3 linked regions of the Homo sapiens genome follow. The protein of the gene in region 1 purifies or fractionates together with the protein of each later gene. This does not show direct contact. Each region holds a gene or a part of one and is shown in the gene's direction. Other genes may lie near its edges.

Region 1 (5,943 bases):
CAAGCAGGGCGGGAGGGTCCTGTGAGAACCGGGGCCAGCATCCACATGGGAGTTGATGGGTGGTGGTGTGGGGAATGCGTGAATCCCTGCGGCTTAGAGAGGGACAGCTGTAGCTGAGAGGCAGGGTGGGGATTCAACACCTGGAGACTTTGGGGGCTCTGGCCTTGGCCTCCCACTAGGTCAGGACAAACTGACCTCAGTTTCTTTTTTTATTTTAAGTTCCATGATACATGTGCAGAACATGCAGGCTTGTCACATAGGTATACGTGTGCCATGGTGGCTTGCTGCACCATTGACCCGTTCTCTAAGTTCCCTCCCCTCACCCCCGATCCCCCAACAGGCCCCGATATGTGTTCTGCCCCTCCCTGTGTCCATGTGTCTCATTGTTCAACTCCCACTTATGAGTAAGAACATGCGGTATTTGGTTTTCTGTTCCTGTGTTAGTTTGCTGAGGATGATGGCTTCCAGCTCCATCTATTTCCCCGCAAAGGACATGATCTCATTCCTTTTTATGGCTGGATAGTTTTCCATGGTGTGTATGTACCACATTTCCTTTATTCAGTCTATCATTGATGGGCATTTGGGTTGGTTGATCTCAGTTTCTAAGTCACAACTCATGTTCCGTCTTCTAGGAAGCCTTCCCTGACTGCCTATGTGGCTGACAGGAGGTGGCAAGGACAACCCCCTCCACCCTAGGACAGGTAGTCTGGCAGGGCCTCACTGCGGTCACCTGCTCCCAGGAGAGCCACCACCCTGACCTCATTCCACCAGGCTCTGAGAAAGACACCACCCAGGCAGGGGAATGAACACTGAGTGCCTACTGCGTACCAGGACTTTATATCCTTTGCTTCTTGAAAAATGTAGCTACCATCCTATGCAGGCTGAGGCTCTGCAGTGGGAGATAAGGCAGGCTCTCAAAATGGCCATGGAAAACCCCAAGGGAAGGTGGCCAGGCCAGGGACGCAGATGCCACCTCCCGACAAGTCCTTCCTGGCCAGCGTTGCCCCATCATATACTCCTTGGGGGAAGGTGGATGGGGTCACTGTGGCCGATGGCATGGAGTTAGAGTCCTCTATGCTAAATGGCACGGGTCGACCCCCTGCCCCTCCTTCCTGTAAGTCAGCCTAGCCCTGGGCCTGCATCTTTCCCCAAATTCTTTCTTTTTTTTTGAGACGGAGTCTGGCTCTGTCCCCAGGCTGGAGTGTAGTAGTGCAATCTCGGCTGACTGCAACTTCTGTCTCCTGGGTTCAAGCACTTCTCCTGCCTCAGCCTCCCAAGTACCTGGGATTATAGGCACCCCCCACCATGCCTGGCTATTTTTTTTTTTTTTTTGAGATGGAGTCTTGCTCTGTCGCCCAGGCTGGACTGCAATGGCGCAGTCTTGGCTCACTGCAACCTCCGCCTCTTGGGTTCAAGCGATTCTTCTGCCTCAGTCTCCCAAGTAGCTGGGATTATGGGCGTGCACCACCTCACCTGGCTGTTTTTTAGTAGAGATGGGGTTTTGCCATGTTGGCCAGGCTGGTCTCGAACTCCTGACCTCAGGTGAGAAGGATTGGCCTTGGCCTTCCAAAGTGCTGGGATTACAGGCGTGAGCCACTGTGCCCAGCCCCTGTCTTACTATTTTCCATAGAACATGAGACTACCTGGCAGACGTCTTATCTGTTTGTTAACTGTCTGCTCCCTTTCACTTGCCAGTGGCATTTCAACACCACGAGGGCAGGGACCGTGTCCATCTTTTTTTTTTTTTTTGAGACAGAGTGTCACATTATTGCCCGGGCTGGAGTGCAATGGCATAATCTCGGCTCACTGCAACCTCCGCCTCCTGGGTTTAGGTGATTCTCCTGCCTCAGCCTCCCGAGTAGCTGGGATTACAGGCGCCCGCCACCACGCCTGGCTTATTTTTTGTATTTTTAGTAGAGAAGGGGTTTCACTGTGTTGGCCAGGCTGGACGACCCTGTCCATCTTGTTATTGCTATATCCCTAGGCCTGGAACAATGCCTGGCACCCAGTAGATGCTTAATAAACATTTTATGAATGAAATCAATCTCTACAACTCTCCAAAGTTGGTTCTGCTCATCCATTTCATGGATGAACAAACCAAAGTCGAACCACAAAGTCAGGGCTGGGACCTGGCAGGGACTGCAGAAGGCCAGCTGGTCTTGTTCTTGGGATGATGGAAACAGCAGCGCCTGAAATGAGGCCTGGGTTTGGATTTCAGCCCTGCCCAACCTGCTTTGTGACACCAGGGAAGCAGTTAACCTCTCTGTGCCTCTGTTTCCTCATCTGTTGCACTGGTGCCAGGCCAGTCCCTGTGACCTAAGGTCTATTGTGAGATAAAGTGAGTTCATTCCTCTGAAATGTCTGGCATGCAGCAGGAACTCACAACATTATTTCAGGGATACAGGAGGGTAGGAGGTTATGAGGCTGTCTGGGGAGGCCCGTGAGACCCAGGTTCCAGTCCTGTCTCTGCTTCTTAGGAGTTGTGGGCGCATAGGCCAGCTGCTTCCACCCTATGAGCGTCAGTTTCCTCATCTGTGAAACGGGGATGTAGAGTGGCTGCAAGGTCCCCTTGGGGCACTGGGTGACCTAGCGTCAGTGGCCTTGTGCATAACAGCCCTTCTATGGGGTCCAGGCCCCAGGCTCCCCTCCAGGCCCCGCGATTGCCACCATGAAGCTGAACGAGCGCAGCCTGGCCTTCTACGCCACCTGTGACGCCCCGGTGGACAATGCAGGCTTCCTGTACAAGAAGGGTGGGCGGCACGCGGCCTACCACCGGCGCTGGTTCGTGCTGCGCGGGAACATGCTCTTCTACTTCGAGGACGCTGCCAGCCGTGAGCCCGTGGGCGTCATCATCCTGGAGGGCTGCACTGTGGAGCTGGTGGAGGCCGCCGAGGAGTTCGCCTTCGCTGTGCGCTTTGCGGGGACCCGGGCGCGCACCTACGTGCTGGCCGCTGAGAGTCAGGATGCCATGGAGGGCTGGGTCAAGGCCCTGTCGCGTGCCAGCTTCGACTACCTGCGGCTGGTGGTGCGCGAGCTGGAGCAGCAGCTGGCGGCTGTACGTGGCGGGGGTGGCATGGCCCTGCCCCAGCCCCAGCCCCAGTCCCTGCCCTTGCCCCCGTCCCTGCCCTCTGCCCTGGCCCCAGTCCCATCCCTGCCTTCTGCCCCAGCCCCGGTCCCAGCCCTGCCCCTGCCCCGCCGGCCCAGTGCCCTCCCGCCCAAGGAGAATGGCTGCGCTGTCTGGAGCACTGAGGCCACCTTCAGGCCTGGACCCGAGCCCCCTCCACCACCGCCTCGCCGCCGGGCCTCGGCACCCCACGGGCCCCTGGACATGGCCCCCTTCGCCCGGCTGCACGAGTGCTATGGCCAGGAGATCCGGGCCCTGCGTGGCCAGTGGCTCAGCAGCCGGGTCCAGCCCTGAGGCCACCAGGGCGCCTGTTTTAGGGGGACACAAGCTCTATGCCCTCTGGGACAGGCCGGGTCCTGGAGAGACTGGGGGAGCAGATCCTGAGGGAAATCATGGGCAAGGCTGGCCCCCAGGCCCTGAGTGGCCTGGTTTTGGGGGATGCAGGCTCTGAGAAGGTGCTGGATTCTGAGTGGGCCTTTAGGACCATGTGACCCAGAAGGCCTACCCTTGAGGGGAACGTCACGTGCAACACTAAGGAGAATCCAGGGCCTGAGGGGGAGGTTTCCTGAGAACTCCGGCCCCAGGCTGGCCTGAGCTGCCGGGCAGAGGCCTGTGCTGGCAACAGGCATTGCCGGGCCTGCAGCTCAGAGGGTCACTGGGACTGAGGGCGATCTGTGGCCTGAAAAGCAAATGCACAGTTAGTGCAGCTCCTGACCAGGCCTTCAGGGTGGACAGAGGGAGGATCGGTCATGGCAGCCACACCTGGGCCTGGCCTTGCTCCGGGACCTGCCAGAGGAGCTGGCCTGGCTCTGTGCCTGCCTGCCTCCAGGAGCAGGACGGTGGCTGGGAGGGTAGTGACTGGGGACACAGGTGCAGGTGTTAGTGCAGGACCGGAAGGGTGAGGTGGCCTGGTCCTCGGGGCTCCTGGCCTGGGCTGGCTGAGGCAGGACTCTGCCAAAAGTCCCCTGCCAGGCCTCATGGTGGTGCTCCTGGTGGCAGTGGCTCTCTGGCCGCGGGCCCTGTCTGTGTCTCCGTGGTGGCTCTCACAGGGCTCTCCAGACACTCCTTGACTGCATCCTTCAGTCTTGGCCCCTAGGCCTGGGGCCCCTTGGGAGCTTGCCTGACCTCCCTTCCTGGGCTGGGTAGCCATGGCCCGAGGTGACCTTCTAGCAGGTTCCCCCAGGGAGGGGAGGCCACCAGCTGACTCACCGCCTAGGAAGGCCCAGGTGCTGACCTAGTGGCGGAGAAAAAGCCGCACACCGAGTGTGGCTTCCAGAGCCCCTCTTCAGCTCCAGGCAGCCCCCTCTAACATGTCCCCTCCTGAGCTCAGCCCCCACCCCCATACTCCTGGTGGGGACCAGGTCTTGCTTGGCTTCGGGGCTGACCGCCGGTCCCCTTTCTTCTCACCACAGTGCCCATTTTTCATCCAGGGAGAACCTCGGGGCTGGGACACCTCCTGGCCCTCACCCTGGGTCATGTTTACAGTCCTCAGTGCCCCACACCGGTGGCCCCCTGAGGACACCTCCACCCTGACCTTGATTTTCCCAAACGCTGCCTCTTGGTGACAGACTCAGCCCAAAACCCCTTCCTTCTGTCTCTGGAGACCCTTGAGCTTGGGGAAATATGGAGGGGTGTGTGTCTGCAATCAAGGCCTCTGCAGCTCACGGCTGGCCCGGTGGGCTGGGACTTCCGTCTGAATTTTAAATACTTAGGGTTCATTTTTTTTTCTCTGGCAACAAAGCTTGATGTTTTCACTGCTTTAGTTTCCTGTTTGCTGGTGGGAGGGGATACGGTCTGTGACTCTGGACTTGCTCTGGGGGAACAGTTGTCACTGCCCCCGGGGAGAGGGGCAGCTTGGGCTGGAGAAGCACAGCCAGAGACAGAGCCCCTCGAGAGGGATCCTTGGCTGCTTCATTGTCTTCCCCCCAGCAAGCCCTGCTCTCCACAGGCACCTCTGGGGTCTTGGTATGGTCCCCGCTCACCTCCTTCCAGAGTCCTGAGTGGTGTGGGTGTGGGTGGCACAGGATCTGGGGCATGGGAGGGGTTCAGAGCTTCCCAGAGCCCCGTGTCCTGGCAGACTCAGCTGGTGGGCTGGGGTGTTAACCCCAGTCCTGGCGTAGGTTTACAGACTCTCAAGGTACGTTGGCCCTGGTCTCCTGGGAGAGAGGGGTGAGGGATGTCCCCTACCAAAGCACAAGGTGGGATCAGGCTGCCTCCTGGGTTGGGTGTCGGGGGAGCTGTCCGGCAGCCTGGCAGGGAGATGCAAGGGCTAAAGTAAAATTTTGTCAAGTAATGGCTGATTGTGTCATTTTTTTTCCCCATCAAAATCCTTGATTGATTTCCCTGGCAGAGCCCAGAGCAGGCTGTGCAAGGGCAGGGACTAGTGTGTGGTCCCACATGGCTGGTGCCCTGCCAGGCACGTTCTCACTTCTCAAGGCAGATGCTGGTCCCGTTTTACAGATGTGGAAACAGGCTCACTGAGGTTATGAAACTTGCCAAAGCCACATAGCTAGAGAGTATAAGAGCAGGGATGTAAATCTCTGAAATCCCGTGACAGGACAGAGTCTTCAGGAGGAATATGAGGGAAAACGGAGCCCAAAGTTCCTTTTCAGAAGGTAGAGAAGGCAGGGAGAAGCCAAAGATTTGAAAGCTAACTGGGCTGAAGACCTGAGAGTTGGGAGGGACATTAACAATCCTGATCAGGATGGCAGATGGAAGAGTCGAAACTGCGTGCTTCTCACTGATAAGTTCATGGAGGCTGTGGAGGGAGCTGGAGTGAAGAGGATTCTAGCACCAATGCAAGTTCAGAGGGAAAGAGT
Region 2 (6,883 bases), on another chromosome or scaffold:
TTGTATTTTTATTAAAGACGGGGTTTCACCGTGTTGGCCAGGATGGTCTCAATCTCCTGACCTCGTGATCCACCCGCCTCTGCCTCCCAAAGTTCTGGGATTACAGGCATAAGCCAACACGCCTGATGGCTGCCATAATTTTATTTGCCCAAAGCATTGAGGTGCCTTGTTAGCGTTCTCTTATGCTCTTATGCACTGTATATTTTCTTCATTTTTTTTCCCCTGGGTAATCCCTCTATACCACTGCAGGACACATAGCTGCTTTTACATTTTCTCCAATGTTGGATCTTCTTGTGTGATGTGTGCCCTACCCATAGTTTTATAATAGATGCCTGAAGACCTATTGTAGAAACATGCCAGGGAAGGCCTGCAAGATGAATTCGCCACATCAGCCTAAATCAGATCATCTGTCAGGTGATTCAGAGGCCTCACCACACTGCTCCTTTTTGCATTCTGCTATTGATATTGCCAGGTCAGGAAATCATTGATGATTTTCTGAGAAAATAATTATTTTGTTACTGTCTTCCCTTTTGCAGGAAGATCTGTTTCAGCAACCAGGCCTGAGGTCAGAATTTGAACATATCAGGGACTGCTTGGATACTGGAATGATTGATAACCTCTGTATCCTTCAGACATTCAGCTCTGTGTGTGTGTGTGTGTGTGTGTGTGTGTGAGAGAGAGAGAGAGAGAGAGAATATGAGTGAGAGGGGTGAGAAAAAGTAAAGTATTTTATGGCTCAAAATCTGATATTGTATCCTCAGCTACCATGTTTTACTTAAAGTTTGCATAGAGAAGACTTTACAACTTTATTTATTTATTTTTTGAGACAGGGTCCATCTCTATCACCCAGGCTGGAGCCTGTGGAGCCTCCCACCTCAGCCTCCCGAGTAGCTGGGACCACAGGTGCATACTACCACACTTGGCTAATTTTTGAACTTTTCGTAGAGGCAGGGTTTCGCCATGTTGCCCAGGCTAAGAATTTACAACTTTAAGCAACCAATAGAGCAGGAACTCAGGAGGGCCTGGCTCACCTGACAAACAGTGTGGTCCCTTCGAGAAGTTAGGCTGGCATCCTAGCCCTGAGCAGAGAGCCTGACAGGGCAGGCAGCACTTCTGGCATGTGCTTGCTCCTGGGCCTTTTCCTAACCATGGACAGCAGCATTATCGGTTCCTTAACAATGGGGCCAAAAGCTGCCAGCAATCATTCTGTAGCCGAAGCCCTGCTGCTTTTCCTGGAGAGCCTTCCAGAGCCTGTCATCTGTTACAGCACCTACCATAACTGCTTGGAGTGTTCTGGCAACTACACAGCAAGCAAACAGGTGAGAGGAAGCATTGAGCAGCATGTGGTTAGCCCCAGACCCCATGGGGCTAAGGGAACAGAGTGGACACAGTTCCTCAAGTGCAGCATCTCAGAAACTGAACACCTTATCTTTCCTTCTCAAACCTGCTCTTTCTCTTATGTCTTTGTTTCTTTTAATGGCATCACCCTTAATTCCAGTGAGTCAACCCCGAAACCTGAGTCATTTCTGACTCCACCCTCTCCTTGCCTCCCATGTGCCCAGTCTCGTTGATCTATCACCCATCCTCTCTCTTCCATTCTCATTGCACTTAGCTTGGTTCAGTGCCCTGCATTCACGATCTCCTTCTGCTGATTTGTTTTGCATGCTGCCATCAGATTGTGTATTCTAAAGCTATTGTCATGTGACTGTTGGTCAAAAACTATACTTGGCTCTCTATTGCCAATTACTGATTTTCTTAAATATTGAAGACGTTCTATGATCTAGCTTGGTGGTTCACACATACAACAGGCCTTGGCAGAATAATCTAGAAAACTTGCCAATAATAGAGATTCTAAAGCCACACCCCAAATCTACTGAATCACACTTTTTTTTTTTTTGAGATGGAGTCTTGCTGTGTCACCCAGGCTGGAGTGCATTGGCGCGATCTCAGCTCACTGTAATGCCTCCCAGGTTCAAGCGATTCTCCTGCCCCAGCCTCCTGAGTAGCTGGGATTACAGGCGTGCACCACCATGCCTGGCTAATTTTTGTATTTTTAGTAGAGATGGGGTTTCACCATGTTGGCCAGGTTGGTCTTGAACTACTGACCTCAGGTGATCCACCCTCTTCGGCCTCCCAAAGTGCTGGGATTACAGGCATGAGCCACTGAGCCCATAATCACTTTTGGAATCTATTCAAACTTCCAAACTGATTCTGATATGCAGATAGCTGGAGTACTCATTGATCAGGGCCTGATCAACCCTTCTAATTATGCTCCTGCCAAAATTGACTTCTCATAAAGTGTTCTCTCTACTTACTTCACTATTTCCCTTCTCCTGCCCTTTTTTTATACTTTCTTTGCTCTCACCCCAGTTATTAACCTCTGTAAGTCCCATTTTGTCTTACATTCAAGACCCAACTAAAATGTCTTATTTCTTTCAGTCTTATAGGAACATGTAGTTAAAAGTTTGACTTCTAAATTCATGTTGCATTTGACCCGTACCTCTCTTTTGATACTTATGCCAAGTGGTAAGCAACCAGTTTTCTGTGCACAGTCTTTCTCGTGCACTTGGATCGTGTATACAGTTCTTGGACTATAGTAGGCACTTGAGAAATGATTCAGTGAACAAAAGACAAATCCCGGTTCTTCCTCTTTCAGGTCATTTCTACTCTCCCCATATTCCACAAAAATGTCTTCCACTACTTGATGGCGTTTTTGCGAGAACTGCTGAAAAATTCAGCAAAAAATCATTTGGATGAGAATATTCTAGGTAAGCAGCCAAATGTCTATGGAAAGCATTTCTGCAAACTGAGAGACTCGTAATGAGAAATGAGGTTGAGGAGGGTCCCAGGTCCCTTGCAGTAGAACTAAAATATCAAGCTCTGGGCAAAGATTTTTTAAAGCAGAAAGTTTTGCGTTTGGACACTCCTCCCCACTCCTAACAACACAAGAGTAAGTATAGTCATGGGCTGGGGGCGGTGGCTCACACCTGTAGTCCTAGCACTTTGTGAGGCTCAGGTGGACGGATCACCTGAGGTCAGGAGTTCAAGACCAGCCTGGCCAACATGGTGAAACCCCATCTCTACTAAAAATACAAAAATTAGCTGAGTGTGGTGGTGCATGCCTGTAATCCCAGCTAAACGGGAGGCTGAGTTAGGAGAATCGCTTGAAACTGGGAGGCGGAGGCTGCAGTGACCCGAGACCGCACCACTGCACTCCAGCCTGGGCGACAGAGTGAGACTCCATCTCAAAAAAAAAAAAAAAAGTATAGTCATGTACCATATAACATCTTGGTCAACGAAAGACCACATATACGATGGAGGGCCCATAAGATTATAATACCGTGGTTTTGTGCGTGTGTGTTTGTGTGTGCATGTGTGTGTGTGTGTGTGCTTGAGAAAGTCTCACTCTGTCACCCAGGCTGGAGTGCAGTGGTGTGATCTCAGCTCACTGCAACCTCTGCCTCCTGGGTTCAAGTGATTCTTGTGCCTCGGCCTCCTGAGTAGCTGGGATTATAGGCGCTTGCCACTATGCCCAGCTTTTTAATTTAATTTAATTTAATTTTTTAGAGATGGAGTCTCGCTCTGTCGCCAGGCTGGAGTGCAGTGGCGTGATCTCAGCTCACTGCATCCTCCGCCACCCGGGTTCAAGCAATTCTCCTGCCTCAGCCTCCCGAGTAGCTGGGACTACAGGCGCGCACCACCATGCCCAGCTAATTTTTGTATTTTTATTAGAGACAGGGTTTTACCATGTTGGCCAGGATGGTCTCAATCTCTTGACCTCGTGATTCCACCCGCCTCGGCCTCCCAAAGTGCTGGGATTACAGGCCTGAGCCACCGCACCCTGCCTTTTTTTTTTTTTTTTTTTTAAAGGGCAGTGACCCTCCCCACTGCAGGATGGGAGAGGGCTGGGAGCCAGTGGGAGCCAGATGGTCACCCAGGCCCTCACAGCCAACCCTTGGACAGGGGCCACCGGGCCACACCCTCCAACGCCCGTGCCTCAACCATCCCTACCACGCTCATGGAACCTCATCGCATCCTGGGGACGAGCCCCCACTGGGGACACGGGGTGGTTGGGGGAGGAGGCAGGAACCAGAGAGGCAGGACACCAAGCAGGGCTGCCTCCCCCACAACCCCCCAACCTCAGCCACCTCTGACACAGCACCATTCCCCTTGGAAAGCCCACTGGCAGGGACAGGCTAATTTTTGTTATTTTTAGTAGAGATGGGGTTTTACCATGTTGGCCTAGCTGGTCTTGAACTCCTGGCCTCTAGTGATCTGCCCGCTTTGGCTTCCCAAAGTGCTGGGATTATAGGTGTGAGCCACCACACCCAGCTCATAATACCGTATTTTTGATGTGCCTTTCCTATGTTTAGATATATTTGGATGCACAAATACTTAGCACTGTGTTACAATTGCCTGTAGTATTCAGTATAGTAACATGCTGTACAGGAGCTTAGGAGCAATAGACTATACCATCTAGAATTGTGTAAGTACAGGTTTGTGAAAGTTTAAGTACACGCTATGATGTTTGCACAATGATGAAATCACCTAATGACACATTTCTCAGAACATATCCCTGTCGTTAAGTGATGTGTGTCTTTAGTACCTTCTTTTGCTGAATCATTTCTTTTCTGTGTTTTTTCTTGCAGCTAGCATATTTGGCAGCTTATTGCTTCGAAACCCAGCTGGTCACCAAAAGCTTGATATGACAGAGAAGAAGAAGGCTCAAGAATTTATTCACCAGTTCCTCTGCAACCCACTCTGAGCCTCTCTCTCCTCCTATTTTACTTGAGGCTGCCAATTACCAGCCCCACCTGTTTCAGCTCAAGAGATGCCTTAAGATAATTATGTGAGGCCACTTGGTAGCAAGAATGGCAGCTATTTCCTGAGCCTAGTACCCCAATTAAGCCCACCATTGGTTAGCACACTCAGCGCTGTGAGTCGTGAAGACACGGGAGAAAATCCACCATAATAAAACTGACATTCAATTTTCAACTTTAGTTATTTAACACAGATTTTTTTATTTTTTATTTTTTTTTATTTTGAGACGGAGTTTTGCTCTGTCGCGCAGGGTGGAGTGCGGTGGCACGATCTCGGCTCACTGCAACCTCTGCCTCCTGGGTGCAAGCAATTATCCTGCCTCAGCCTCCCGAGTAGCTGGGACTGCAGGCACACACTGCCACGCCCAGCTAATTTTTTGCATTTTAGTAGAGACGGGGTTTCACCGTGTTGCCCAGGCTGTTCTAAAACTCCTGAACTCAGGTAATCTGCCTGCCTCGGCCTCCCCAAGTGCTAGGATTACAGATGTGAGCCACCACGCCCGGCCTTTTTTTTTTTTTTTTCTTTTTTGAGATGGAGTTTCACTCTTGTTGCCCAGGCTGGAGTGCGTTGGCGTGGTCTTGGCTCACTGCAACCTCTGCCTCCTTGGTTCAAGCAATTCTCCTGCCTCAGCCTCTCGAGTAGCTGGGATTATAGGCGTCCGCCACCATGCCTGGCTAATTTTTTTGTGTGTTTTTAGTATAGACACGGTTTCACCATGTTGGCCAGGCTGGTCTCGAATGCCTGGCCTCAGGTGATCCACCTGCCTTGGCCTCCCAAAGTGCTGGGATTACAGGCATGAACCACCACGCCTGGCCTAAAATGTTTTTAAATAACTGTACTTGTACTCACTCACCCTACCTCCAGGGCATAGTCAGTCTGGGCTGAGATCCCCATGATCAGATATTTGATGGAAAGTCCTGAAAGGCCAATGAGTTGGATGGCAAGAATGCAGGCAGAAGCTGCTGGATAAAATAGGCTACAGCCACCTCAGATGCTTTCAGTGCTCTGTCTGAGGATGTGTATATGCATATGCAAACTCGACCCCCGTTCCTGCCCAGATAATGGCTCAATAACTCTGAGGCTGGTTGCTCAGCCTCTGAGGGCAATACAGGCATTTAAAAAATTAAAATGACCAGGCACAGTGGCTCACGCCTGTAATCTCGGCACTTTGGGAGACTGAGGTGGGAGCATCACTTGAGACCAGGAGTTTGGGACCAGGCTGGGCAACACAGGGAGACCCCCTCTCTACAAAAACATTTTTAAAAAATTAGCTGGGTGTGGTGATGCATGCCTGTGGTCCCAGTTACTTGGGAGGCTGACGTGGGTGGCTCACTTGAGCACAGGAGTTTGAGGCTGCAGTGACCTATGACCACATCACTGTACGCCAGCCCGGGTGAGAGAGGGAGACCCCGTCTCTAAAAATAAAATGTAAAATCACTGAAAAAATGAGTGTTCGGTGAAACAAGTGGGATTTTCTGGGCCAGCAAGTCTTCCAAACTGTATATGATGCATCCTGTCTCCATGTGTAATATATTTTAATGATAAATGTATTTTTAACAGTGGCGGTTGTGTATGTTTTTATGTCTTAAGAGATGGCAGTTCGCTGCAGCTGGATTTTGTGGCTCAAGCCTTGGGGCCAAAGAGACATATTCCTGGCAGTCTGGTGGGTACCAGTCACTATTCACATACTTCCAGCAAGAAATGGTTATGGCACTGACCTGAACCCCTTGACCCCTGGTCTGGTCTTTGGAGTTGTCCCACTCTGAATATTCGAGAGAAGCAGCTTATGGTTAAAACAGGCAGTGGCAGCTGGGAGGATCTAACAGCTAGATCCTCCAGGCATTTGGAAAGGACAGGGGCATAACGAAGGCAGAATCGCTTCCTGGGTACGAATGCCCACTACTTCTGGGCACTGTGAAATGGGTTTAAGACGCGGGCCAGCAGGACAATGTGAACGGTGAAAGGAAGGGAGTGGCCGGTAGGTGGCGCTAACTGGCCCGGGCATGAGTCCCGCCGTAGCCGCGTCCTCTTGCAGGGGAAGAAAGTTGGGACCGCCAGCCTG
Region 3 (7,026 bases), on another chromosome or scaffold:
TGTTTAAAATGCTGCTTGTGGCCAGGCATGGTGGCTCACGCCTGTAACCCCAGCACTTTGGGAGGCCGAGGCAGGTGGATCACTTGAAGCCAGGAGTTCGAGACCAGCCTAGCCAACTTTGCGAAACCCCGTCTCTACTAAAAATACAAAACTCAGGCATGATGGCACACACTTGTAATCCCAGCTACTTGGGGACCCCCCCCCCCCACAGACAAACATGCCGCACCTGTGGCAGTAACTAGGCTTGAGCCCGACTGTCTTTCCTCCCCTGGTTCTGGCAGGAGAGGCGGGAGATTTTTGAGCAGCACCTGAAGAGCCTGAAGCTGACCCAGTCCAGCACCTTTTACTCCCAGCGTCTGGCAGAGCTGACACCAGGATTCAGTGGTACGTTCTCAACCCGCAGCCTGGGCAGCGTCACGTCCTGAGGGCAGGTGGTGTCACCTGCGCAAACAGCATCGAGGCCTCCTCTGTGGGGTGGGCGCTGCTCCTTCTCTGGGGGCCTCTGCTCAGTACAAGCCTGGGAGGGAGCTGATGTGTATGTGGGGCAGCAGGAGGTCCAGACGGCACCCGCACTCCGTCCTCCGCCCCGGGGTGGAAAAGCAGACGGTGGTTCCCGGTCTGTGTTGTTTCCAGAGATAGTGGAGTTATGTTGCTTCCACACAGTGACCAGTCATGCCGGCGTTTCCCGTCAGACCCAGAGTCAGACCACGCAGTCCCGGCAAAGCCGCCTCCCTCTGACCCTCACGGTCTCTGTCAAGTTGTAGAAATAGAAATCATACCTCAAGATGCTTTTCCTGCTGTGTGGTTCACATTTTAAAAGTTAATGTCAACAAACCTCCCTTTTATTATGAGATGAATTTGCCCTTTGATTATTCGTTAGGGTCTTTCACTAGAATTTTGTGGTTACTAGAGAGCCTTTAATTTCTTTGCCATCAATGCTCATGAGCTGTTAGGTGGAATCAGCCACAAGATGGGGTGTGGAACTAACTGCCCTTGGGAGGAGAGACGGGCGTCAGGGCGGATGGAGCCTGGCGGTTCTGTGTCTCGTCTGTGGAATGGCCTCAGTGGAACACGGTGCAAGTGCCTGCCGCTCTCCCCACCCCTGCTCCTGGCGCCGGCGCCTGCCGCTCTCCCCAGCTCTGCTCCTGGCGCCAGCTCCCCGTGCCTCTCTCCCAGACGCTCTCACCAGCACTCTTGGTTCTTGGTCTCTTTTCCCTCTTTGTTCTTCCTTTTATTTATTTACTTATTTATTTTGAGACAGAGTCCTACTCTGTCGCCCAGACTGGAGTGCAGTGGCGTGATCTTGGCTCCCCGCAGCCTCCGCCTCCTGGGTTCAACCGATTTTCCTGCCTCAGCCTCCTGAGTAGCTGGGATTACAGGCGCTCACCACCACGCCCGGCTAATTTTTGTATTTTTAGTAGCAATAGGGTTTCACCCTGTTGGCCAGGCTGGTCTCAAACTCCTGACCTCAGGTGATCTGCCCACCTCAGCCTCCCAAAGTGCTGGGATTACAGGGGTGAGCCACCATGCCCGGCCATCTTTGTTCTCCCTTGAGGGCCCCTTCCTCCTCTTAAGCCCTGATAGCAGAAACCCACCCACCCACACCGTGGCTGTTTGTGTTGACAGGGGCTGACATCGCCAACATCTGCAATGAGGCTGCGCTGCACGCGGCGCGGGAGGGACACACTTCCGTGCACACTCTCAACTTCGAGTACGCCGTGGAGCGCGTCCTCGCAGGTACAGGGGGCGCGCCCTGGGTGAAGGCCCTCCTTAGCAGGGCTTGAACCCCAGAAATACCCAGGCAGGTATTGAGAGGTGAGGTGGATGGAACCATCACACAGGAAGGAACACACGTTGCGTTTCAGTTCTGCGTAACTCATGTCTTTATGATACCTTGTACTTTTCCTTAGTTTAAAATATCACAGATTTACCTAAGAGTAGACGCTCGTCCAACAGAAATAAAAAATGCCTTGCCAAAGAAAGTGAAAAAATAAAAATAAAAAATGCCCCCCAAAAATAAAAATAATAAAAACTAAAAATGTCTTGCCAGCCTGGGTGTGGTGGGCTCAGCCTAGCCCCAGCCTCATGGGGGCTGAGCTCCAGCCGCTGACTGTGGGCCGGAGGGCTGCTGCCGCCCGTGGCTGTGGAGGGACAGCCGTGCTTTCAGCGCAGCAGGGGCTCTGCGGAGAGGTGTGGATCTGCAGCACCACCTCTGGTGAAACTCATGGTCCCGACCGTCAGTAGGAACGGGAGATGAGTTTTGGTGACGGGTGACCGGTGGGCTGACCGCCTCTGACTGCCGTTCCGTGGCTGCTCAGTGTGGGGTCTGCGACGTCTGTGAGGAGAGAGGACCAAACTGGGAATCGGAGCTGCTGGAGGTTTCCATAGCTATGATGGCAACACCCAGACGTGATCAGTCATCTCATGGAATGGAGTTCAGACCCGCACTGTCAGTGTGAGACAGGTTGAACGTTTGAAAAGGGAAGTGGTTCTTGCCCCAGGTGTTTGAGGAGCACGAGCCTCCTTTGCGAGCTATCCCTGCGAGAACCGAGTTCCTCACCCTCAATTCGAGTGAATTCCTAGCACGAACACGCCTCTTGCAGGTCCCCAGGGCTTCAGCTTGGGAAAGCAGTGGGTTCCTGCAGAGGAGTGGGGCAGCTGCTGTGCCAGACACTGCAAAACACACCTGGCTTCTCTCCGACAGCCCTGCGGGTCGAGAGGACTGGCGCTGCCTGTGTCTTACTGAAATTTATTTTCGTGTAACCATTTACTTTTATGTGGAAATCGAAAAGCTTTTGATAATAGTAGCAAAGCAGGAAGGACTGAGTGGGAACCACAAGCCAGTTGAAAGAAAATACATGACGTACTTGAGTGCTCAGGACCACGAGCTGATTCAAGTTGTACAGAATGGACACTTACAGATGTGTGGAAAATCTGAGACAGGAAATGAAGCCTCACCAGTAAGCTGAACAGGGGAGATTTAATGCAAACATTTGTCCCTGGCTGGGCACTGTGGCTCATGCCTGTAATCCCAGCACTTTGGGGGCTGAGGCAGGAGGGTTGCTTGAGGCCAGGAGTTTGAGACCAGCCTGGGCAATACAGCAAGACCCCATCTCTTAAAAGAAAAGAATAAAGAGTATTAGCCAGGCATGGTGGTGGAGCACACCTCTGGTCTCAGCTACTCAGGAGGCTGCAGCAGGAGGATTGCTTGAACCTGGGAGGTTGAAGCAACAGTGAGCCGTGATCGCACCACTGCCCTCCAGCCTGGGCAACAGAGTGAGACCCTGTCACTGACAGAAAAAAAGCCTTGTCCCTGAGGCAAAAAGCTTCTGAAGGGGTGAGTAGAAGCCATAAGGATCCAGAAAGTGATGGGGATGGGAGCTGCGCCTCCAGGTCTGAGGGGAGAGGGAAAGTAAGCAGGAGGCCCGTAACTCAGAGGAGGCCTCTGCCCATCCTGCCAGGGAGAAAGTCAAAAGCTGCTGTTCTGTGACCCTTGCCCCGACCCTGTGGCACCCCCCCAACCATGGGGCAGGAGGAGACACTCCTCAGAGGGTTGCACTTGTTCCTAAAAGCAGCAGGAGCTATTTCGATGATTGCAACATTTATAAAAGAAGAAATCACGACCTCCTTCAACAGCCCTTTGACCTGAAGAGTGTCGTTTTGAGTTGGGGTGTCCAGAGCCGCAGCTGCAGCTCCAAGAGGCAGATGTGCAGAGAGAGGCTTGCTTTGACCACACGGGGCAGGAGCAGGGCCCAGCCAGGGAGAGGCCGGGGTCTCAGCTCACCCCCCCGTCATTCTTTTTTGTTTGTTTTTTGAGACGGAGTCTTGCTCTGTCGCCCAGCCTGGAGTGCAGTGGCATGATCTTGCCCTACTGTAACCTCCGTCTCTCAGGTTCAAGTGATTCTCTTGCCTCAGCCTCCCAAGTAGCTGGGACTGCAGGCGCCCGCCATCACACCTAGCTAATTTTTCTATTTTTAGTAGGGACGGGGTTTCACCATATTGGTCGGGCTGGTCTCGAACTCCTGTCCTCAGGTCATCCGCCCGCCTTGGCCTCCCACAGCGCTGGGATTACAGGCGTGAGCCACCGCGCCCAACTCATACCCCGGCATTCTTTCAGGGACTGCCAAAAAGAGCAAGATCCTGTCCAAGGAAGAACAGAAAGTGGTTGCGTTTCATGAGTCGGGCCACGCCTTGGTGGGCTGGATGCTGGAGCACACGGAGGCCGTGATGAAGGTGGGTCTTGGCAGGTGCCGGCTCCACGGGCCTTGGCCAAAGGTGGGTGGGGAGTCCCGCCTGTGTCTGTAGCTGACTGGGGAGTCCCGCCTGTGTCTGTAGCTGACTGGGGAGTCCCGCCTGTGTCTGTAGGTCATGTGAGAGGAAAGCCTGCCACTGTCATGATCCATGGAGCAGGGTGGGTGGCGACTGATGGGCGGGAACTCGGACGTGGGAGGCAGGAGTGGGCTGTGTCACATCGGAGCATGGTGCTGCTACTGGGGTGACTCGTGGAAGGTTACACCATGCAATGGGGTTTCGCTGCCTTTGCCTGTCCACCCCAAATGACTCCTAACATTGGAAAGAAGTGAGTTGAGTGTACATTTAAAAAATACTATTCTAGGCTGGGCATGGTGGATCACCTGAGGTCAGGAGTTCAAGACCAGCCTGGCCAACAGGGCAAAACTGTCTCTACTTCAAACAAACAAACAAAAAACTACTCTTGTAGGCAGCTGTGAACTCGATGGACATTTATTCTTACCAAATGGTGATGTTACAGCTTCTCTAAGACGTGGCTCCACCACCGGGAGTCCGAGTGCTGCCAAGAGGAGGTCTCTACTCGGAACGCAGGTGCCGTCTTTACAGTGGAGCCCCAGGAAGCCGTGCAGGTTTGAGGCTCACCTGAGAAGGCGGCAGTGCTGTGTTCCTACCTCAGGGTTCACTGCAAACAATGCATACGCTGTAGCAGTTGCCAGCTTGGTTTGTCAGTGCTGGTCTCCGTGATTGGTTCTCAGGTGTGAGTTGTAGCAAAGTTGCGTGTTAATCAGAGAGCGTCCTGCCCATCCCAGGGTCTCAGCAGGGCTGAGGCAGCGTTTGGGGACCAGATCCGTGCTGCTCCTTGGCGATGTGCACCACAGTCATGGGACCAGAGCTAGGCCCACTGTGGGGCGAGTGGACACTCAGCTGGGGGTCCCATTTATGGGACACTAAAAAACTCAGCAGTGAACACGACGTTTTAACACGGTATGTCAAGAAATCAAAATTAATGCAGGGACTTTGGGAGGCCAAGGCGGGCAGATCACTTGAGGTCAGGAGTTCGAGACCAGCCTGGCCAACCTGGTGAAACCCCATCTCTACCAAAAATACAAAAGAATTAGCTGGGCGTGGTGGTGCGTACCTGTAACCCTAGCCACTTGAGAGGTAGAGGCACAAGAATCGCTTAAACCCGGGAGGCAGAGTCTGCAGTGAGCCAAGACTGTGCCACTGTACTCCAGCCTGGGTGACAGAGCAAGACTGTCTCTCAAAGGGAAAAAAAAAGAATTTTTACTGTATTTGATGGGCAAAAGTCAGATAGTCACAATGAAAAAGTGAGTCTCTTTCCCAAGGCTCAGTGTCCTGCCAGGAAAAGGTTGTGAATTGGCTGTTATGGTTTTGGTCATTAATGCAATCATCACTGCAGCCGTTATTTAGAGCTTCTTTTTGTTTTGAGACAGGGTCTCTCTCTCTGTTGCCCAGACCGGAGTCCAGTGGTGCGATCACAGCTCACTGCAGCCTCGACCTTCCGGGCTCACACGATCCTCCTACCTCAGCCTCCTGCATAGCTGGGACTACAGGCATGCCCCACTGGTGGCTCGAGTGATTTTTATATTTTTTGTAGCGAAGGGGTCTCGTTATGTTGCCCAGGCTAGTCTCGAACTCCTGGGCTCATGCAATCTGCCCACCTCTAACTCCCAAAGTACCGAGATCACAGATGTGAGCGACCCCGCCCAGCCTAGTTTTAGATTTTAAATTAAGCGTCCTCGGGATTCTCAGAGCACTTGGATGTGGCCATCTCGCCGCCACAATTCTCAGAAGCAGCAGCTGGGCCAGCCCCTGCCCCGTCTCCGTCCGTCTCCCACTCAGCGGTTCCGTGTTGTCGAGTTAGCTCGTTGCCCCGCGCCACCTCCTTGCACACCTGATGTGGGGCTGTGGGGGAGCAGCAGAGGTGAGGACAGCCTCTGCTGCCTCAGCATCGTGGGGTTCTCATTGCTCTGAACCCTCAGTAGCTGTCGCTGGTGTGAGGGGTCAGCGCAGCGGCCATCGGGGGTGAAACTTGTCCTTCGCCTCTCAGCTGTCTTCTACGGGCCTTGTCTTCTTGACTCCCTGCCTGTCTAGTCATGTATGAGAAGACACTTCCCGGCAGTGTGTGAACAGGCACCTGTGGTGGGAACGCTGCTGTCTCTGGGCTGGCCATCTAGAGTGTTAGGATCCCCTGTTGTTGTAGAGGATGCTGCACATTTGCCTTCCTGCTTTGAGACGCTTTAATGACGGAGACCTCTTAGTCCCACACCTTCCTCCTCAAAGCCCACGCATCCTGCCTACTGACCTGGGTCATCTTGACCTTGTGCCAGGTCTCCATAACCCCTCGGACAAACGCCGCCCTGGGCTTTGCTCAGATGCTCCCCAGAGACCAGCACCTCTTCACCAAGGAGCAGCTGTTTGAGCGGATGTGCATGGCCCTGGGAGGACGGGCCTCGGAAGCACTGTCCTTCAACGAGGTCACTTCTGGTGAGGAGCAGCGGCGCGGGCCCTGGAGGTTTCAGAGCGCTTTTCCCTGCATGACTCCTTCTGTTCCAGTGCATGCCATGGGGTGAATCTGGTGTAGACGTAGCTTTGAATTTATTAAGTATTTTGTAAAAGATAAGTTGTGGTCATAAGAGAGTTGGAGCTAAGCAAGACTTCTTAGATAATTTAATTGGACAAAAACTTAACCTATATGCCAACTCTAGACACATTTAATTGGTTAATTGTTGGTAATGGCTACAGGAAACGGAA

What was found. The genes of interacting proteins can lie anywhere in the genome.
Region 2: the proteins of PHETA1 (region 1) and INPP5B purify together in Homo sapiens (affinity purification with mass spectrometry; 2 studies listed by BioGRID and IntAct, with this or other methods). This does not show direct contact.
Region 3: the proteins of PHETA1 (region 1) and SPG7 purify together in Homo sapiens (affinity purification with mass spectrometry; 2 studies listed by BioGRID and IntAct, with this or other methods). This does not show direct contact.

The regions. Positions count from the first base shown.
Region 1 is NC_000012.12:111,360,153-111,366,095, reverse strand, and holds the end of PHETA1 (sesquipedalian-1), read left to right. Parts: intron 1-444; exon of another isoform or gene 445-529; coding exon of another isoform or gene 530-532; intron 533-539; exon of another isoform or gene 540-701; intron 702-2,632; coding exon of another isoform or gene 2,633-2,668; coding exon 2,669-3,418; 3' UTR 3,419-5,417; downstream 5,418-5,943. UniProt on the Homo sapiens protein: Plays a role in endocytic trafficking. Required for receptor recycling from endosomes, both to the trans-Golgi network and the plasma membrane.
Region 2 is NC_000001.11:37,860,197-37,867,079, reverse strand, and holds the end of INPP5B (type II inositol 1,4,5-trisphosphate 5-phosphatase isoform 1 precursor), read left to right. Parts: intron 1-317; coding exon of another isoform or gene 318-414; intron 415-536; coding exon 537-621; intron 622-1,191; coding exon 1,192-1,319; intron 1,320-2,656; coding exon 2,657-2,768; intron 2,769-4,649; coding exon 4,650-4,765; 3' UTR 4,766-6,383; downstream 6,384-6,883. UniProt on the Homo sapiens protein: Hydrolyzes phosphatidylinositol 4,5-bisphosphate (PtIns(4,5)P2) and the signaling molecule phosphatidylinositol 1,4,5-trisphosphate (PtIns(1,4,5)P3), and thereby modulates cellular signaling events.
Region 3 is NC_000016.10:89,546,377-89,553,402, forward strand, and holds part of SPG7 (mitochondrial inner membrane m-AAA protease component paraplegin isoform 1 precursor), read left to right. Parts: intron 1-281; coding exon 282-384; intron 385-1,626; coding exon 1,627-1,737; intron 1,738-2,318; coding exon of another isoform or gene 2,319-2,341; exon of another isoform or gene 2,342-2,406; intron 2,407-4,117; coding exon 4,118-4,233; intron 4,234-6,602; coding exon 6,603-6,759; intron 6,760-7,026. UniProt on the Homo sapiens protein: Catalytic component of the m-AAA protease, a protease that plays a key role in proteostasis of inner mitochondrial membrane proteins, and which is essential for axonal and neuron development.